Homo sapiens: one gene and its partners. The protein of the gene in region 2 purifies or fractionates together with the protein of the main gene of each other region. This does not show direct contact. Each region holds a gene or a part of one and is shown on either strand. Other genes may lie near its edges. The genes, in order: CCNT2, CDK6 and FKBP5.

Evidence for each region.
Region 1: the proteins of CDK6 (region 2) and CCNT2 purify together in Homo sapiens (affinity purification with mass spectrometry; 3 studies listed by BioGRID and IntAct, with this or other methods). This does not show direct contact.
Region 3: the proteins of CDK6 (region 2) and FKBP5 purify together in Homo sapiens (affinity purification with mass spectrometry; 2 studies listed by BioGRID and IntAct, with this or other methods). This does not show direct contact.

Annotation. Positions count from the first base shown.
Region 1 is NC_000002.12:134,956,822-134,960,002, reverse strand, and holds the end of CCNT2 (cyclin-T2), read right to left. Parts: 3' UTR 661-3,181; downstream 1-660. UniProt on the Homo sapiens protein: Regulatory subunit of the cyclin-dependent kinase pair (CDK9/cyclin T) complex, also called positive transcription elongation factor B (P-TEFB), which is proposed to facilitate the transition from abortive to production elongation by phosphorylating the CTD (carboxy-terminal domain) of the large subunit of RNA polymerase II (RNAP II).
Region 2 is NC_000007.14:92,604,405-92,607,141, forward strand, and holds the end of CDK6 (cyclin-dependent kinase 6), read right to left. Parts: 3' UTR 517-2,737; downstream 1-516. UniProt on the Homo sapiens protein: Serine/threonine-protein kinase involved in the control of the cell cycle and differentiation; promotes G1/S transition. Phosphorylates pRB/RB1 and NPM1.
Region 3 is NC_000006.12:35,577,256-35,580,915, forward strand, and holds part of FKBP5 (peptidyl-prolyl cis-trans isomerase FKBP5), read right to left. Parts: exon of another isoform or gene 3,302-3,660; intron 2,967-3,301; coding exon 2,781-2,966; intron 1-2,780. UniProt on the Homo sapiens protein: Immunophilin protein with PPIase and co-chaperone activities. Component of unligated steroid receptors heterocomplexes through interaction with heat-shock protein 90 (HSP90).

The DNA of each region.
Region 1 (3,181 bases), on a different chromosome or scaffold from region 2:
ATCATTCCAATATCCCACATCTACCCCTCAATTAGGATTCTCTTTAATGCTATTCTATCTAGCCTTCCTTGACCATCCAAGCCTTACACAACTCTATGATGAACAGGTACTACTACTAACACTTTGTAGGGAAGAAAAAGCATGAGATCAAGTAATTCACCCAATGCCATTCTGTTATTAAATGGTAGGGCTGAGACTAGAGCATGGACCATTTGATCCCAGAGCCTGCACTCCTGAATGATACATGAAATTACTTGGATAAAGGGTCAATTATACTAGAGATCTCACATTTTCCAGGGACTGAAAGTTACTTCTGTTTTTGTTGTTGTTAAGGAATCTTGCTCTGTCGCCCAGGCTGGAGTGCAGTGGTGCGATCTCGGGCTCTCTGCAACCTCTGCCTCCTGGGTTCAAGCGATTCTCTTGCCTCAGCCTCCCGAGTAGCTGGGATTACAGGCATGCACCACCACACCCGGCTAATTTTTGTATTTTTAGTAGAGACAGGGTTTCACCATGTTGACCAGGGTTGTGTTGAACTCCTGACCTCAGGTTATCCGCCTGCCTTGGCCTCCCAAAGTGCTGGGATTACAGGCATGAGCCACTGCGCCCCACCTCAAAGTTACTTCTGATTCACATTAACTTAAGACATGTTAGAGCCTTGGATTTATGTTGTCAATAAACATTTTATTAGTTCCTTGTATGGATAAGAAGCTTAAAGTCAATGACTAATTCATGCCATATACACATATTCCTGTTTTAGATTTTCTATTAGCAAACATCCTGTTCAATTGTTGTTGGGAGTTTTGAGTACATTCAGAAAATGAAACCCCACAATCACTGTTTACAACAAATGAGTATGTATTTTTCCTAATAAAATGAAGCTGCTTGAAAAAAACATACCTTAAAATTAAGAATGTACTCATCACTTAATAAGAATGTACTCATTATTAAACAATAGGCAAATCAAACAAACTACTAAAGTGGCAATGCTCGGGATTTTGAGTTTCCGCCCCAAACTTGAAAATAAAGTAGACAGCCCTCAAACTTTGAGATAAATGGATTCCACAGTGAAGTTAAGTTGCCTATACGAGAACAGAATTACTCCTAGCCATTCAATCTTCGATGGATCTTATCAACCTACTTAATCAATCTGTCAGGCAGAATAGGTAACAGTAAATTATAAAGAAGGTGCCACAGAGGTAAAAACTGGCTGTGCCCAAATTGACACTGCAGAGCAGAAAATTAATGTATGATATTAGGTCTAAAACATTTTGAGCTTTTCAGTCCCACTGGCAAAATGTATTACAAAAATAGATGCTCCAGGGAAACTAACAAAAGCAACCTTTTGATTTCGGCTTCCATGTATGTCAGCTTACAGCAATTAGGTTGCTCACTGATTTCTGATATTAACGTATCAGAATGTGATTCTCAAATTAGTATCATAGCTTGGTACCCAAGGTCAGAGAATGTGCTGCTTTTCCAATGCAAAAATCCCTATCTAAATAAGTCCATCTTAGGGCACATGAGATTAGCACCTATTGTCCTGTCAACTCATTTAGTTTAAGTGTGAGATTTGTTGATCCCTCATCTGGGTAAAGGTAGTCAGTGAATCCTACTGTCTCCCTTCAAGACAGCCTCTGAGGCAGTAATCAGGTTAGAAATACTGAATCCATGATTCTTCCTAACAAGAGCCTCCAAATATTCTCAGCAAAGACATCCTAAATTTAAGCAGATATGCTTTTCATTTGGATAAAATTGGAAATGGTGTAATACCTTGAGAGAATGGTTTTCCTAAGACGTTACCATGTTAAAAAAGTCCCCATGTCTATAGAAAATGCAAAACCCTGAAATATCTAATCAACTAACTGTACTCATGAAATGCATAATATTCATGCAGATATAAGCAGTGGTTTATTTCTAAGGTTGCTTAACGAATACAAGTCAGCAATTTAAGTTCTCAAATAGAAAAGAAAATGTGCTTGAAACCTTTTAAGGCAATGGTATTTTGTACTAACAAAAACATTTCATATTGGTTCTCTGAAATAGCCCTCAAGTAGTCATTTCTAGTTCAAAGAGGATAGGCCAAAAAAATTAGGTATTCTATTAATTATTAATACAATCTGTTGCTACAAAGCAATATACGCAGCCACTCATGACATTCAAGAAACCATACATCATGTTAGAAATTTCTTTTAGATGACTCTGAATAAGAACTTTAACCAGAAGGAATCTGAACACACGGAGGAAGACCAAGGTGCACATTTAACTGCTTTCAAAGATAAACCTAGGGCTGACAACAGGACTTTTTTGGTATTTACATACCTGCAATTAGGAAACTGTGAGGTTTTACCACTACCGGATACTGCCGCCCGTTAAGTAGGCCTCTAAGAATGTTTCAGTGAACAAACCACCCTTTGCTTTGGTTCTGAAAATACCTATTTTGAAATAGCTAAGGCAAATATTCAGAGGGACACAGCTCAATATTGGAAAACTGAATGGAAGAGGTAGAAATAAAGCCTTTCTTTGCAATGTGCTTCTGTGTAAAGGTAACAAATCAGTGATCTAGGGAAAACACAACTTAAAAATGACTCACTCTTTTATAGGATGTTTAAAGATAATGCTTTTTAATATTTCAAATATTTTTTTAAATCTCATCAAAAATGTTATCACCTTAACAGTACTTTGCACATGTGGAATTTCATACCTAAATTTGATACTATTTTGGTTTATTTATGGCTACTTACAAGAGTCACAGTAATAATGTCCACTCATCAGAGTCTTTCTTTGGTAGAGCCTAATGGGACCAGACAGATGAACTGTTATGCAAATGAGATGGATAAAGCAAATTCATGATAGTATGAATTATAAGGGTTTTTGTTTAATGGAAATACAACTTAAAAAGGATTTCCATATTTATCCCCATCATTATTTTGGAAGCTTAATACCCTGTTCAGGGGTTGAAGAGTTTGAATAGCTCACACAATCCTGTAAAAATGACAACTGGCTGCCCTTTAATAAATAAAGTCATTGTAAAGAATTACATTTACAGAGTGAAAAGTGAATACATAGCATTTCAAATTCAATTTTGGAAGTACTAATAAGTACTGACCCATAACAATATACACTAGCTATCTTTTTAACTGTCCATCATTAGCACCAATGAAGATTCAATAAAATTACCTTT
Region 2 (2,737 bases):
TATCTCAGTCATTAAGCAACGCATGATTGTTGAATGAGTTCTTTTTTTTTTTTGAGATGGAGTCTTGCTCTGTTGCTTAGGCAGGAGTGCAGTGGCGCCATCTTAGGTCACTGCAACCTCCACTTCCCAGGTTCAAGTGATTCTCCTGCCTCAGTCTCCTGAGTAGCTGGGATTACAGGCGCGTGCCACCATGCCCGGCTAGTTTTCATGTATTTTTAGTAGACACAGGGTTTCACCACGTTGGCCAGCCTGGTCTTGAACTCCTGACCTCTGGTGATCTGCCTGCCTCGGCCTCCCAAAGTACTGGGATTAAAGGCATGAGCCACCGTGCCCGGCCAATTGTTGAATGAGTTCTAAGCTCACTTAGCTGTTATTTACTTTTTAAACACTAGAAGCCTGAAAAGGAATCTCTTAAAGTAAAACTTTAAAACACATTCTTTCTACCACATGGCCAGGTTGCAAATAAGAAGCACCAAAAAAAAAAAAAAAAAAAAAAAAAGAAAGAAAAAAAACACATTCTGCTAAAACTTGGAATTTAATGAATTTTACTCACTACAGTTATACTCATTTTACATTAAAGTAAAAAAGAAAATAGCCAGGAGAGTAATTCATCTCCAGAAAGCAGTTTAAAGTTATTGTTTTTATTATTTTTATTTGCTACCAATATTTTTATTGTAAGAAATACAAAAGGTATTACAAATATACAAACTATTTGCTCTTTTTGCCTCATTCAATTTAGCTTTCACATAAGTGAACACATTGGACAGTGATATTTCAACACCAATTTTGAAAAAAACAATGAACTTCATCATCTGACAATAAATACCTACATTTTCATTCTAGCACCCAGTAAGACATCCAGTTTCCAAAGGATTATTGGTATGCAACCCTCTGAATTTTCTGACATGTTACCTTTGCCACTGCAACAGAAACACCACTGCAGTTCTCCCTTTCCCAATAAGTCAGAGTAAGGGGCAGGTAAGAATGGCTATCTGACTTCAGAAACCCTGGGTCACAAAGCATCCCTTACTTGAGCTACTTTTAAAACCAGATTTTTAATGATAGGGTACTTAAAGTTTTGGTGGTCCTTGAATGACATATTTTACGTTACATATTTACCCTACTTTTCTATTCTCCTCCTCAGATAGGAAGGGTATAGATAAACTGGCTATATTTTCATCTGCCTCTTGGGAAAGGAGCAAGAGCATTCAGCTCAGAGCATTCTGAAGACAGTAGCCTTAGAGATAAGCTTTCTTTCTTTCTTCTTCTTTTGCTTCAAGAGGGCTTTCTGTGTGTAATGGAGGGATGGTTGCTAGAGTGAGACAGCCCTTCCCCTCTTGCTATGTCTATACCATACCTGAGGCCATTTTTCTTAGAGGGCAAAAACGTTAGAATAGGTAGGAAGGTTCTTGCTTTCAGAGAGCTGTGCTGCACCCACAGGGTGGACCCGACAGGCCACTGTGGTAACTCTCAATCTGTGTACAGAGAAAAGAGAAGCAACATCTGATACAAAGTCACCTGCCAACATTCTTATAAGACTGTGTCCCAGGCAGTGAATTTCCACACTGCTTCTTGGGTCTGCAGAACTCAAAGCACCAAAACAGAGCATTCTGTAGCAATATAAGCAAACGGAATAAGAATAATTATGCACCTTTAAGGAACATGCACCCTTATAAGTCTGTACCCTGATATGAAAATAGCAGAATGAATTTCAAGTATGAAGAAATACAGTAAAAGTGTGGCCTGTAGATGGAGAGAAAACAGCAGCCTGGAATGTGGTTTATATTCTTGATTAGTTTTTCTCTTGGTACCACAGCCAAAACTGAATGCTCTGTACAATGACTTGGTTTAAAAATCAAGATGCATACAAAGATGCTAGAGGCATTTCTAATGGGTGCCATGAGCACAGTCTGTGCCCAGCATCAGGAACCATCTCTAGATGAATGTGGCTAGGTCAAGTTGGGAGTGGTGGCCAGGCCTAGACAGGCACACCTGTGGTCCATGATGTGGAGGAAGATGGAGAGCACCATGTGGACAAGCCAGGATGGTAGCAGGGAACACTTTAGTGGTAGAAAGGAAGAGATACAGGGGACAGAGATGTAGAGGTGTGGGGATGTTGGTCATCTTGGGCTGGTTCACACAGCCTAGATGAGTATCTGATATACACAATTTCTACATTTCTAGAACCATGATTTCAAACACAGAAACTAACAAGTCAAATTTCCAAATTAGATTTTTTTTTTTTACTTTCAAAACATTTTCTATTATAAGTCAGAAGGAAAAAAGCTTACTGTATGTGACAGTCTTCCTGAAACCTAAGAGAAAGTTTTAACCAGGCCCTATGGCAATGCAGAAACACTAATACATTTTACAGTGAAAACCTACTTTAACACATCTCAAAATGATAATCGTATAAAACTTTCTAGTTCTAATTTGCACTCTACGTGAACCAATATTTTTCTTTTCTTAACACATACTGCTCTTCTATACCAAACACTTGCCCTTTAACCTTCAGATAAAAACCTCAAATACCAAAAAATGCAACAAGCTTTTGAGGTGTTGGGAATTGTTGGTTGTTAAAATCCCTTTTATTTTATAATAAATTATACAGGCAATCCTTGCTTTTTATTACCACACTGGATTGCTTCTGTACACAGCTAAGTTGCCTGAAGCATGGAAACTTGGACTTCTCCATCTGACACGTTCTGGAAGCCTCAAGGCACAAGCTGACAGTTCT
Region 3 (3,660 bases), on a different chromosome or scaffold from region 2:
TTAGAAAGGACGAATTTTAATAAATTCAGTAAACAGCTTACCAAAGTTCTCTTGCCAAAGGAGATGGAAAAAGTGTATTTAAAAAAATGGGGCTCAAGATAATTACATACTACTGATCAAAATTTACTACCCAAATTATTTTCTGCATTTAATGCAATTTCTAGAAAGATCCCAAGGAGATTTGAGAGGGGGCTCTTGAGAAGTTCATTTTAAAGTTCATTGGAACAAATAAGTGCCCAAGAATGGCTGAAAAAATTTGGGAAAAAAGAAAAAAATAAGAGGCACTTGTCTTACCAGAGAAAAAGACAAACTTTAAAACTACTGAAATTAAGACAGTTTGGTTACTAGCATGTGGACAAACAGCTCAGTGGAACAGAACGAATCATTCAGAAACAGTCATGTGTCTGCATATAAAAACATTTGAAAATGACAAAGGTGGTAATGTGAATCAGTGGAGAGTTAACTTTAAAATAAACGGGGCCAGGATGGCAGCTATCCACATAGAAAATAAGAGTTAAGGCCGGGTGCAGTGGTTCACACCCTAATCCCAGCACTTTGGGAGGCTGAGGCAGGTGATCACCTGAGGTGAGGAGTTCGAGACCAGCCTGGCCAACATGGCGAAATCCTGTCTCTACTGAAAATACAAAAATTAGCTGGGCATGGTGGCAGGCGCCTGTAATCCCAGCTACTTGGGAGGCTGAGGCAGGAGAATTGCTTGAACCAGGGAGGTGGAGGTTGGAGTGGGCTGAGATCGTGCCACTGCACTCCAGGCTGGGTGACAGAGTGAGACTCTTGTCTCCAAAAAAAAAAAAAAAAAAAAGTTCTTACCTCATATTGTAAGCACAAAAGTAAATTCTAGATCAACCATATTTACATATTAAAAAAAACCATAAAATGTTTCAATTATTTTTTATTTTAAAATATGTAAAATATAATCATTATTTTTTTGAGGCAGGGTCTCACTCTGTCGCCCAGGCTGGAGGGCAGTGGCTCAATCACAGCTCACTGCAGCCTCTATCTCCTGGGCTCAGGCAATCCTCTCGCCTCAGCCTCCGAAAGTCCTGGGGTTACAGGTCACAGGTGTAAACCACTGTGCCTGGCTTCAGTTATTTTTATAATCTTGGTGTGGGGAAGTCTTTTCTAACTAGAAAGGAGACGACAAATCTGACTACATAAACATTAAAACCTTCTTTAAAGAGAAAGATATAATCAACAAAGCTAAAAGAAAATTGCTGGGTTGTGGTGGCTCACACCTGTAATCCCAGCACTTTGGGAAGCTGAGGTGGCAAATCACCTGAGGTCAGGAATTGGAAACCAGCCGGGCCAACATGGTGAAACCCTGTCTCTACTAAAAATACAAAAATTAGCCTGGTGTGGTGGTCGGCACCTGTGGTCTAAGCTACTTGGGAGGCTGAGGCAGGAGAATCGCTTGAACTCGGGAGGTGGAGGTTAGAGTGAGCCAAGATTGTGCCATTGCACTCCAGACTGGGTAACAGAGAAAGACTCCATCTCCAAAAAAAAAAAAAAGAGGAAAATAAGGAGAACAGGCTTCCTATTGCCAAAGATAGGGTTAATAGTGATGCTATATGACTGCTTCTGTCAATAGAAGACAGAAAAATAATGTAGTCAAGGCTGTGCTGGGTGTGGTACCTCACAACTTTAATCCCAGCTCTTTGGAAGACCCCCATCTCTACAAAAGTAAATTTAAAAATTAGCAGGGTGTGGTGGCATGCACTTGTAGTCCCAGCTACTCAGGAGGCTGAGGTGGGAGGATAGCTTGGGCCCCAGAGTTTGAGGCTGTAGTACATTATGTTCATGTGTATTAATAGCCACCGCACCCCAGCCTGGGCAAAATAGCAACAACTTGTCTCTAAAACAAACAAAACACACACACGCGCGCGCGCACACACTCTCTCTCTCTCTCTCTCCGCTCTGTATGAAAAAAACGAAAAAATACATATAAAATTAATAACTGGTCTTGGGAGAGAGGATGCGATAGGAAACACTGATCCACAAAATTCAAAAATAATCTCACAAAGAATGTACAAAATAGTTGCCTTGCTTTTCTTATCCTTTTATGTCTACCTTTAAGATACATCCAATGATTAGTTTTTACTTTTACCCACAGTATAATATATACTGTTCACTCTGAGACCAGATACCTAAAATAGTATCGGCTGGTGTATAAATATATCAGAACGATACATAACGATACAGATGATAAACCACTGTTATAGAGTACTGTGTGTAAGCACTCAAAAGACCAAAGATAGTATTAATAAGACAAATGTAAAAATAAAAAGGCTGCTGATGCTCTGTGGACCTTTCATATTATTTATGCATATCAGTGAATAAATGATTATAATAAAAATTGACCTATATATATGCTTTATATGAACAGTTGCAGTCTGTTAAAGTCCAGAAAAGCTTAAGTTAAATCTTCTCTTATTAAACTGAACCTGAGGAGTTATACGTCTACTCTGATATAAATACTACAGTTATAAGGAAGGTCGTGGATAAAAATTATTTAATTTTAATCAAAACTTTTCTTCAGAATGCATTATGATAAACAGTCTAGGTATCATAAAAGTCTGACTGTAATAAAAATCTTGCTGAATTTCCCAATTCATACTGAGAAACAAATAATCCCAAACATTCAAATAAATAAAAAAAAGCAAAATGAAAAATCCTGCAACCTTTGGCTGAGAGGAAGCAAAAGACAGAGATGGAGAAAAGATCTGGAGTATCTAAAGTCCATCTCACAGGAGACACGATGTTACCTTGTCACAGCATTCAACAGCTTTGGTGTATTCTCTAAGCTTCAGGTAGCACATGGCCAGGTTCAGAAAGGCAGCAAGGAGAAATGATTCAGAAGCTTTCGATTCCTTTTCTGATAAACCATATTCCATCTCTAACCAGGACACTATCTTCCCATACTGAATCACCGCCTGCATGTATTTGCCTCCCTAGGATAAAAAAGCGTCATTACTTGTACTCAGCTCTTGAGGGGGTACAAAAGAAAAGCAAATCCTCAAAGTGAAGCAACCCCTCCAGCAAACCCTGGTACAGCTGGTTTCTTTCTTTCCTTCTGGAGATGGCTCTCCAGGTACCTTTCCCACTCCCTTGGAGGCCTCGATGGCCTGTGGGCTGGTTTGGGGCAGTGCCTGAGCACTGCCTAGTGCTGCTCTGCAGCATTTCCATCCGTCCCTTCAGCAGGTGTAGTACAGCAAGGCTTCTGGGCTATGTTCTTTGGTGCTAATATTCTTTAGTCTTTTTTTTTTTTTTTTTTTTTTTTTTTTTTGAGACACAGTCTCGCACTGTCTCCAGGGCTGGAGTGCAATGGCGCCATCTCAGCTCACTGCAACCTCCGCCTCCCGGGTTCCAGCGATTCTCCTGCCTCAGCCTCCCGAGTAGCTGGGGACTACAGGTGGCCGCCACCAAGCCCAGCTATTTTTTTTTGTATTTTTAGTAGAGACAGCGTTTCACTATGTTGGCCAGGCTGGTCTTGAACTCCTGACCTTGTGATCCGCCTGCCTTGGCCTCCCAAAGTGCTGGGATTACAGGCATGAGCCACCACACCTGGCCTATTCTTTAGTCTTTCAAAAGGATTGTGAGCAGTTTTAGACTATGCCACTAAAAAAATGAAAAGGAAGTTACTTT